Regions from separate parts of the Homo sapiens genome. Here region 2 is linked to region 1. The links come from fine-mapping of genetic effects on gene expression. A gene starts in region 1. The other region holds a variant in brackets. All regions are shown on one strand. Distances are between the middles of the regions.

Region 1 (5,373 bases):
CTCCTAGGCTCAAGTAATCCTTCCACCACATCCTCCTGAGTAGCTAGGACTACAGACGTGCACCACTGGGCCTGGTTAATTTTTCTGTAGAGACAGGGTCTCACTATGTTGCCCGGGTTGGTCTTGAACTCCTAGGCTCAAATGATCCTCCTATCTTGGCCTCCCAAAGTGCTGGCTTTACAGGCATGAGCCACCATGTTTGGCCTTAATTTCTTTATCTGCATAAAGGAGGTAAAAATTCTTTAACTAGATTATAGTCTGAACGTTTTTATTTTTAAAAGGTCATGATCAGCTGGGCGCGGTGGCTCACACCTGTAATCCCAGCATGTTGGGGGGCCAAGGCGGGTGAATCACCTGAGGTAAGGAGTTCAAGACCAGCCTGGCCAACATGGTGAAACCCCGTCTCTTACTAAAAATAGAAAAATTAGCTGGCGTGGTGGCAAGCAACTGTAATCTCAGTTACTCAGGAAGCTGAGGCAGGAGAATCACTTGAACCCAGGAGTTGGAGGTTGCAGTGAGCTGAGATCGTGCCACTGGACTCCAACCTGGGCCACAAGAGTGAAACTCTGTCTTAAAAAAAAAAAAAAAGTCATGCTCATGATTCTATGAGTATCTGGAGCAATAAAAAAAAAAAAGCCACTCATAACCAATAGAAGTGGGGTATGGAGCACATAGCAGTATGAGAAGCTTCATCTTAAGGAATTTTGGAGACTTCCTTATGTTTATGAACAAATGTTTACTGAACACTCTCTCTGTGCAAAGCCCATTTATTCTGCAGGAAACTGGAGCCCAAAATAATACTAGGCCTTTCAGAATGGCCATAGCTCTAACATATTTTCCCCTTTAAAAAACGTATTGCTGCCCAGGCACAGTGGCTCTTGCCTGTAATCCTAGCACTTTGGGAGGCTGAGGCAGGAGGATCACTTGAGCTCAGGAGTTTGAGACCAGACTGGGCAACGTGGCCAAACCCCATTTCTACAAAAAATACAAAAATTATCTGGGCGTCATGTGCCTGTAGTCCCAGCCACCCAGGAGGCTGAGTTGGGAGGATCACTTGAGCCTAGGAAGCAGAGGTTGCAGTGAGCTGAGATCATGCTACTGCACTCCAGTCTGGGTGACAGAGTGAGATTCTGTCTAAAAGCAAACAAGTGAACAAAGAAAACCAAAACTTATTGCTGTGTTCGACCTTGTTCATGAGATCAGCTTGCCAAACATAACCTTTCAGTCTAACAAAGTTAGGAGGCAGCTTCGTTGATACCTTCTTCTAAAAGGGCATTTTGTGAGGATTAACACTGTCACATGACATATTTTTATTAATTGTCCTCTATAAAGCAGAGCATACTTTCATTACCACATATTTTCCTATTAAAACACTTTTTAATATCCACTCAGAGCTGACGTTTAAAAAACTCCCTAGACTAAACTTTAAAAAAAATGCCCTCACCTTCTCCAAATTTCAGAGAAATGTTCATTTTTAAGCATCAGTCCACAAAATATTTGAGTGTGATCCATTCTCATTAGCAAGCCCCAGACAGTATAATACACTGCATAATGTACTACAACCCACAGACAGCTTCCTTTGATTTTCTATCTATATCAAATTATGTAAAAATAATCCAGAATTGGCTGGGTGCCGTGGCTCCTGCCTGTAATCCCACACTTTGGGAAGCCGAGGTGGACGGATCACCTGAGGTCAGGAGTTCGAGACCAGCCCAGCCAACACGGTGAAACCCCTGTCTCTACTAGAAATACAAACAATTAGCCGGGCGTGGTGGCCCACACCTGTAGTTCCAGCTACTCGGGAAGCTGAGGCAGGAGAATCGCTTGAACCCGGGAGGCGGAGGTTGCAGTGAGCTGAGATCTCGCCATTGCACTCCAGCCTGGGTGACAAGAGCGAAACTCCGTCTCAAAATGATAATAATAATAATCATCATCATCATCATCATCATCATCCAGAATCACTCTCAAAAATGTAGGTAGCCACAGTGACGGATACAAAAGGCTCCTGTGAACCCCGCGCTAAAAGTTCACCTGTTAGGCTCCGCTGCACTGAATTCTTTCAAGTCTACACAAACACTCATATGCCCAAGGGCACCTTTCTGGAGAGGAGCGTTCAAAGGATACTTACTCGCCAACGGTGCACGCGACGTCCCCACTCCCGGGACAGCAGTCACCCGGCTTCGTGCGCCGGAGTGGGGATCGCGGTTCCTGTCTGGGTCAGAAAACAGACCTGGCACCTCGTTACAGGGGTGGGGACCAATCGCGGCCCTGTCCCTGGCCGCCACAGCCAATGGGGATGCGTGGTGACGGGCCAATGGGCGTGTGGGCAGTGGAAGAAACAGTGTTACAAGTTGTCCGAAGGCGACAGAAAAGGGAGGAGAGAGAAGAGGGAGGGGCGGGGCTGACTCACCTCGCAGGGTCGCGAGGGGTCAGGGAGGGGACCCTCGCGTCAGTAATCAGCTCGGGGGCTCCACACAGCCTTCATGTGTCCTCAGAGGACTAAGTAGATGCCCTCCAGCTGGTTCCACTCACCTGGCACTGGGCCCCAGTTTTCTCATCTCTCAAATGGGGCAATGCCACCAGCTTACAGGGTTGTCCTGAGGGTTACGGAAAACCCCTTAGATAAAGGAATCAAAATACCAGGCTCGCTGCCTCAAGCGAAAACATGAGAAAACGGCATGAAGGAAATAAACGCATAAAAGGGAGAAAGGGAAATAGCATTTTAAATAAGGCAGGAAGAAATAGAGGATGGGGGGAGAAAATGGGGTGGAGAGAAGGGACCTTTAATAGCTCAGATTAAAATATCAAGAATAAGAGAGAAAAGGGGTTCACTCTGGGTAGTAGGAAGTAGGTATTCTTTCAGTTTGGAAAAAAAATTCATTTTTCCTTCCCAAATATAGATGTACTCTCGTTTAGGCTTCTTTTTGCTTGTATGCTTATATCCTGCAATATTTCGTGATGCTCATGATCCCACTATATCTGGTTGACACTGGTGGGGGTACTAGCGAGGCCCTACACATTTGGTAGCAGATGCAGGACAAAGCCCCTTGAAGTGCCCGGCTCAGGGCCAGTGCACGGTGCAAGAAGCATGGCTCCGCCCAGGCGCCCCCTTGCTGCCATCTGATGGGTGAGCTCCTTCACTCCTGAGGCAGGGGTGAAACAGGGGTCACAGGCTTAGCAGGCGTAGCAGGGGATTCTGGATTAGAATCCACCTCGCAGGGACTGAGAGGACTATCAACGAGCCGCTACGGAAAGCACGCAGTAGGGTACCTGGGAGGCTTAGACACTCATGAAGTTTGACGTCAGTGAGATGATGTCCCACATATAAAGAAACCGTCACATAAAAACAGAAAAACCTTCCAGTAAGGGTCAATTCTCATTCTCCCCTTCTAGCATTTTTTTTTTCCTGAGACAGGTTCTCGTTCTGTCGCCCAGGTTGGAGTGCACTGCAGCCTCGAATTCCCGGGCTCAAGCGATTCTCCTGCCTCAGCCTCCTGAGTAGCCGGGACTACAGCCCCGCACCACCACACCATGCTAATTTTTAATTTTTTTGTAGAGACAGGCCTTTCTAGGAAAATTTAAAATGTTCATTTCACTCCAAAATTCTGCTTGGGTCGCTGCCCCATTTCTGGCTGTCACGCAGCCCTTGACCTAGGGTCGCTCAGGGCTTTAAGGAAATTGTCACCACCCCACTCCACCCCCACTCCCTGACTTTTCTCTCCTGGGCCTGCCCACACCTCCCACCACCAACCTCCCACCACCAGCCCTACCTGCCGTGTTGCTGGGGACCTAGGGGTTTGTGAAGCTCTGTCTTGGGGAGCCTTATCCTCGCACCAAGATGACACAGAGTGGTTTGGAAACTGACCTCTGACCTGCCTCAACCTTTCATGTAGTCACCCCACCTCCCGCCCCAACCACTGCCACACACACAAGCAGATGTGCACCCAGAAAAAATGTAGTCCTGGGGGGAAAGTTACTAAGAAGCTTATTTACCTGCCACAGCCTGATTTCTTGATTGAAAAAGAGGATCTTGTCCACATCAATCTTCCCCATAGCTGCAAGGCAGAAGGCTCTGCCATGAACACTGGGGGCCTCCTGGTGGCCTCTCACTAGCTCTGGATATGAAGAGTTATCCCTGGTAACACCCACACACACCACCACCCTCTGACCTTGACCCCTTCCTCCCAGTAGCAAAACTTTTGCCCTAAAATACACTCCCTCCCCACCACAGGAACATAGATCCTGTCCAGAAATGCCCTCCCCCTACAATAACATAGATCCTTCTCTGAAATATTCCTCCAGCAACATAGATTCTGCCCTGAAATTCCTCCAGCACAGTGGCATAGATCCTGTCTTGAAATACTCCACCCCAGCAGAGATCCTGCCGGGAAATATTCTCCTTCTCTCCCAGTTGGAGAACATGCCCTCCTTGCAGATCCAGCTCAACACCCAGGAAGCCTTCCAAGATCCCTGCATTCATACCAACTCGGGATGGCCACCCCTTTTTGCGCCCCTTGGCCTAACTTTCTGGTAGAAGGAATAACCCTCTGAATTTATTCTCCTTGTTAGTGTCCATCCATTTCATGAAATAAAAGGCCGGGACTTCAGGCTGTATTATCTTTTTATCCCCCAATTAAAATGAGAGTGATGGATCCTATACTGAGACTTTACTGTGCTCAGCATCCTCAGGGACAACTCTGTGAAGAGTCTTCTCCCCAGGCTCAGAGAGGGCCAGGGACTTGCTCAAGATCTTCTCTCTGGTCCTCTGCACTCCATGCCCCCTTGGGGGGCATTTGGTCCCTTAAATATCAACTACCTTAGGACAGAGAGATATATGCAAGATTTTGTAACTTTTAGAACAAAAAACCCTCAGCTTTGAGCTGAGGTCTGCAGATGGTGGCTCCCAGGAAAGAATGAAAAAGGCAGAGACACAATGGAGGGATGCACTCTCTGACTGCAGTCAGGGGCTCCCAGCACTTCTGCCAAGATGAGCCTGAGACACAATCCTAGATAGGCTTTTGCTCACCGTGTCCTTTGCATGGGGCTAGACATTGGCTTCCAAGGGACCCTGCAGATACAGTAAACTCCTTTATGGGGAGCATTGCTGGGTCAGTATGGCTGGGCACTTCCTGCTATAGGAGGGCAGATGTATGACCCCATCAAGACATGTCCCAGGGTGAGAGTCCCCACCCTCCCCAGACCTCCATAGTGAAAATTCCCAAAGACTCATACTGTCATCACAACTCAGCAGCAACTTCCAAGGGACTGCTTTTGGAGTTTCTATTTTAAGGGTTTAATGTATAAGTGAAAGTGCTTCAAAATGTAGAAAGAGCTGTAGAAATACTGATAAAGAAGGTTGAAACTTGTGAATAA
Region 2 (5,373 bases), 84 kb before region 1:
AGGCCCAGAGGGTCTTTACTCACTGTGCTCTGTATGCCATGGGCTATGGAACAGCCTAGGTTTGAATCTCAGCTCCTACATTTATTATGAACCTCGAACAAAAATGTAACTCAACAACACCTGAGTTTCTTTCTTTCTTTTCTTTCTTTCTCTCTCTCTTTCTTTCTTTCTTTTTTTTTTTTTTTTTTTTTGAGACAGAGTCTCACTCTGTCACCCAGGCTGGAGTGCAGTGGCATGATCTCGGCTCAATGCAACCTCCGCCTCCCGGATTCAAGCGATTCTCCTGCCTCAACCTCCTGAGTAGCTGGGACTACAGGTGCGCACCACCATGCCTAACTTTTGTATTTTTAGTAGAGATGGGGTTTTACCGTGTTGGCCAGGCTGGTCTTGAACGCCTGGCCTCAAGATCAATCTGCCTCGGCCTCCCAAAGTGCTGGGATTACAGGCGTGAGCCACTGGGCCCAACTCTCTGAATTTCTTAATCTATAAATAAAGATGTGAATGCCAGGTGTGTCATGAAGATGAAATAAGAGAGTACATATAAAGGCAGAGCATGGTGTACAAAGCCAAGTGTTCAGTAACAGTCAGTGACTTAGCAGCTTTTGACTGTCTCTTCATCTTGGTTTTTCTGTCACAGCCCAAGCCTAATCTGTCTTCTCCTTCTTCAAACATCTTCTGAATCCAAAATATCTAAGACAGGTCTCCTCAATCAACTTGGAAAGTTTATTTTGCCAAGTTTAAGAATGTGCCTGTGACACAGCCTCAGGAGGTCCTGAGGACATGTGCCCAAGGTGGTTTTATACATTTTAGGGAGACATGGTGGTGGGTGCGGGGGGGGGGGTTCCAGGTCATAGGGCGTAGATAAGTTTGCTTTGTTTTGCATCCTTGATCAGCCTTTCACTGAATACATAATTTAGTTTGGCTCAGTGAATCTGCATTTTTTTTCTTTTTTGAGACAGAGTCTTGCTCTGTTGCCCAGGCTAGAGTGTAGTGGAACCATCTTGGCTCACTGCAACCTCCGCCTCTAGGGTTCCAGTGATTCTTCTGCCTCAGCCTCCCAAATAGCTGGGACTATAGGTGTGCACTACCACACCCAGCTAATTTTTTATTTTTAGTATAGATGGGGTTTCGCTATGTTGACCAGGTTGATCTCGAACTTCTGACCTCAAGTGATCCACCAGCCTGGACCTCCTAAAGTGTTGGGGTTATGGGTGTGAGCCCAGCCAGAATCTGCATTTTTACATAAACAATAGGGCAGAGGAAGCAATCAGACATGTATTTGTCTCTGGTGAGCAGAGGGATGACTTTCTGTCCTGCACCTATGAAGATCAGCTGTCAGTTTATACTCCTAGGGTGAAATTCCACAGAGCTGTTTCAGGGTAAAGATCTTGAGGTCCACAAGGAGTTTCCTCGTGGGCAAATTGCGAGTGAGGTATGCAGCGTTTTTATCTTTGCAGCTATCTTATTTAGGAAAAAATGGGAGGCAGGTTTGCCTGAGGCCAGCTTGACTTTGCCCTTGGCTTAGTGATTTGGGGTCCCAAGATTTATTTTCCTTCCACAATCTCATCGTCATGTTTTTCAGGGCTTCCTTTTGGACCAACTCCCGTTGACTTTATGTGGGTCCTGTCATGCACTTCGTGAACCTTGGGAGCCAGTGCCACCCTTTCCAGAACATTCTGCCACCATGAGGAGCTGGTATTTGCTTGCTTTGGACTTCATGAAGTGGGGTTTGATCAAGAGCTTTTGAGGACGGGCTTTCAAGTGTTCTGTGCAGAATAACAGCGAAACTACACCTTCCTGGACTTCTGTCTTTAGAAGGCAGATTATCAGGTGTTTCTGGGTCTTTGGGAAACAAGCATGAAGGATTAGAAGCATTTGTCTCTCAGGCTCTCACCTGAGCCTTGTGAGGCCTTTGCCCTACCCATAAGCCTTAGCAGCTGTGGCCAGGACAAGGCGTAATCTTCTTCCCTATTAATCATCTCATTAGGCATCTCAGGGGTCACGCTGTTCCAGCTATTTTGCAACGATTTCCATTCAGCTCAACCAGTCACAAGGAATCAGCTTAGAAAATGGAAAAGCCTCGATGTTCCAGCCAGAGCCTCACCCTCATCCCCCTCCTTTTCTGCCCCCTCGAACCTGGTTTCCAGAAAGTGCTCTTCTGCTACACCCTGATGGGCTGTCCTCCCCTTGGTTTCCTGAGTGCTGTGGGGGATCATTAACTCCTCTGCAGCTACCGAAACTTATGAAACATTTCCTGCAACCGAATGCACCTTGGTTCCCTGCAGGACAGGCTGGAGCGGGAGTCTGTTTTAGAGGAGCAGGCACGTAGGAGCTGGAGGCCCCTCCCTCCTGAGGGCTGCCTGGGTAGTCCCAGGACCCGCCCTTGGTGCAGAGTCCTGCCTAGAGAAATTAATCTCTGGCTCCTGAGGCAGCTTCACTTTTTTTTTTTTTTTTTTTTTGGTGTTCCCTGTCCTGCTTCCCCAGAGGAAGCCAGAAGAAGACCCCAGTTGCCATGAACTCCGCCGTCACTAGCCGTGAGCACTCCACTTACTCGGTAAGGCCCGGTGGGAGACAGAGGGAGAGAAAGATGGGGAGCAGGAAGAAGGGCTGCGGGGAGGTCCTACTGCCCTGACTCCTTCTTAGTGCTAAGGCCTAGCCTCATGCTTTAGATCAGGGTTCAGATGATGAGACCCATGCAGCACTCCCTCCCCACCTCCAGCGTTAGTGCCCCTTAGTGTCACCTGTGGTCACCATCACAACAGACACAGAATCCGCCCCGAATAAACGGTAAATTACAAAGGAGGGGGGAAGATTTAGAAGATTGGATTTCCTGGTAATCCCAGCAACTGATCCCGTTTGCGACACCCTAATGCACAGGGTGGATCTGTTGAATCTGAAGGCCTGTTTTCCAGGTTGCATTTCAGTTTCTCTTTTCAGAAGCTTTCTCTGAATGGAAGCAAAGTGTGAGAGAGAAAGAAGTCACTTTTATTGAGCAGCCAGTATGCCCTAAGCACTTTCTGAACTTTATTTTCTTCCAAACAAGCCAATGGAAACAGGCACTTCTGTTCCCATTTTACAGATGAGAGACCTGAGGCCCAGAGAAGTCAAGTCACAGTGACTCATCTGATGATCTGTCTAGCTGGGCCCTGAGCCCTGGCCCCACCACCCCCTCCAACTTGTTTTGGCCACTTGAACATAACAGGGTGGACCCGGGCGGGAAGACCCTCTGTTCTTGCCAATACCCACTGCATGGGCCAGTTCTGTAGCCCTAATCAGGCCCAGGCCAGATGTCTGGGGACAGGGACCACCCACGATCCAGGCTGGGCTCTCAGGCTTCCCTGGAGCATGGCTGC[C/T]GGCCCCTGCCTGCTGCTGGTCAGCCTTCCAGCAAAGAGCCACATGCATTCTCTTCTGAGAAAGTGTGGGAGGCACCAAAGAACTCACGTCACTCAGCGGAGGTGCCACTAGCTCTCGGGAGCCAAAAACAACCCCTAAACAGCAACGACACAAAAACTTGGGAAATGAGTTGAAGATTCCATTTTCTGGAGACAGTTGTGTGTTCCTACATTTCTGGCTTCCCTGAGGCAAACTTGAGAGTGGGGGTTCTGGGCACCTATCCCTCTCCTTCTCAGTGGCCTTTCTTCCTGCTGTTTTTCTCACAGCCTCAGAGCAGCACCCAGATGACGAAGTCACCATTCTGAGATGCTGCTGGTTTTGGGGAGCACGTTGCTCTGCTGGAACTGGGTTATAAACTGGGGGAAGGCACCTTCCCGACCCTGAAAGCTTATGGCCCAGCTAGGCAAAAGCAGGAAGAGGCGGCATCTGAAAAATATCTCTGATACAAGGCAGAAAATGGCACATGATGCACCAGAGATAAAGGCCACAGGCAGGTGGGGAATCAGGAAAGGTGACGGGGGAGGAATTTGAGCTCTTCCAAGGAGGCCGCGAGTACAAGAAGCAGGTGGTGGAGATGGAGGGGGGCCCAGGGTGACAAAAGGCACTGAGGCAGGACCATGGAAGCCACATTGGGAGAAACCTGGACAAACCCACTGGGGAGAGCCAGGTGAACGGGAGTGTTAGGAAACGAGCCTAGGTCAGGTGAGCCTTGGAGGCTGGAAAGAAGGAAAGGCTGTATTGGGTATAGATGGTGTCAGAGGGGGAAAGGCATTCACCTTCCCCCAAGAAATCCCCAGCCTTGTCATTACTGCTCTCTGCACATCAGTGCCGCCTCCTGCTCTGCTAGTCTGTTCCCGGGAGCTGGAGGACTGTCTCTGTATGCCCAGGGCCACACCAGATGACAGACCTCAACTCTACTTGTCCCTATGTGGAACCTTCCTCCTCTGGTGGACCTCAGACAAGCCTTGTAACCTCAGGGAGCCTCAATCTCCTCATCTGTCAGAGGGAAGCAATAAGATGATGGTGAGTCTTCGATGAGATGTTTTCTTTTTTTCCCCCTGAGACAGAGTCTCACTCTGTCTCCCAGGTTGGAGTGCAGTGGTGCAATCTTGGCTCACTGCAACCTCTGCCTCCTGGGTTCAAGCAATTCTCCTGCATCAGCCTCCCAAGTAGCTGAGATTACAGGCCGGCACCACCACTCCAGGCTAATTTTTGTATTTTTAGTAGAGATGGGGTTTCACCATGTTGGCCAGGCTGGTCTCGAGCTCCTGACCACAAATGATCCACCTGCCTTGGCCTCCCAAAGTGCTGCGATTACAGGCATGAGCCACTGCGCCTGGCCTAAACGAGATGTATTGGAAACTCTTTGTAAACTGTAAAGTGCTATAAAATTCCAAACCTCAATCAGGATGCCTCTTTTGATCAAGTCTTATGGTAAAATTACAATCCATGCATTGAGTTGACAGACTCCTCCAACCAGAAGAGGAGGTTATGGCTCATATTCTCATACCATTCTCAATGTCGGGAAGTGCTTCATGAAGAATTCATTCTTCCTCCAAAAAGGGGCTTGCAAGCTTTCTTCTGCTGCTTTGAGTCACACACACAGACTCCTCCCAGCAAGGGATTCTGTGGAATTAAAAAGTACTTCATACGCACACACACACATACACGTGTGTGTGTGTGTGTGTATATGTATGTATATATATATATATGTGTGTATATATTTGATTTTTTTTTTTTTTTTTTTTTGGTAGAGACAGGGTTTCCCTATGTTGCCTAGGCTGGTCTCGAATTCCTGGGCTCAAAAGATCCTCCCACCTCGGCCTTTCAAAGCACTGAAATTATAGACGTGAGCCACCGTGCCTGGCCTACCCATATTCTCATATGCTCTGAGATGAGGCATCTCCTGCTCGCAACTGAGAAACCCGGCTCTAAGCTATCTCCGGGCTGTTCCTTGTTTCTGTGAATGTCTTTAAGCCC

Direction of the effects. Alleles are on the strand shown, and positions count from the first base shown. SD is a standard deviation of normalised expression in the study named.
For the expression in subcutaneous fat of the gene that starts at base 2,194 in region 1, allele T in region 2 goes with a higher level than allele C (small effect, 0.39 SD a copy in GTEx).

What was found. PIP is the estimated chance that this variant, and not a neighbour inherited with it, causes the effect.
Region 2: its variant is the best candidate, but not a certain one, in a credible set for the expression of STRA8 in subcutaneous fat (GTEx, PIP 0.80).

The regions. Positions count from the first base shown.
Region 1 is chr7:135,230,659-135,236,031 of GRCh38, reverse strand. It overlaps STRA8 (stimulated by retinoic acid 8), which reads right to left and starts at 2,194. Exons shown (of 9, transcript NM_001394401.1): 1 at 2,129-2,194.
Region 2 is chr7:135,314,821-135,320,193 of GRCh38, reverse strand. It overlaps LOC107984123 (a long non-coding RNA gene), which reads left to right and starts at 2,461. Exons shown (of 6, transcript XR_007060540.1): 1 at 2,461-2,554. The variant C/T (reference allele first, on the strand shown) is at 3,354.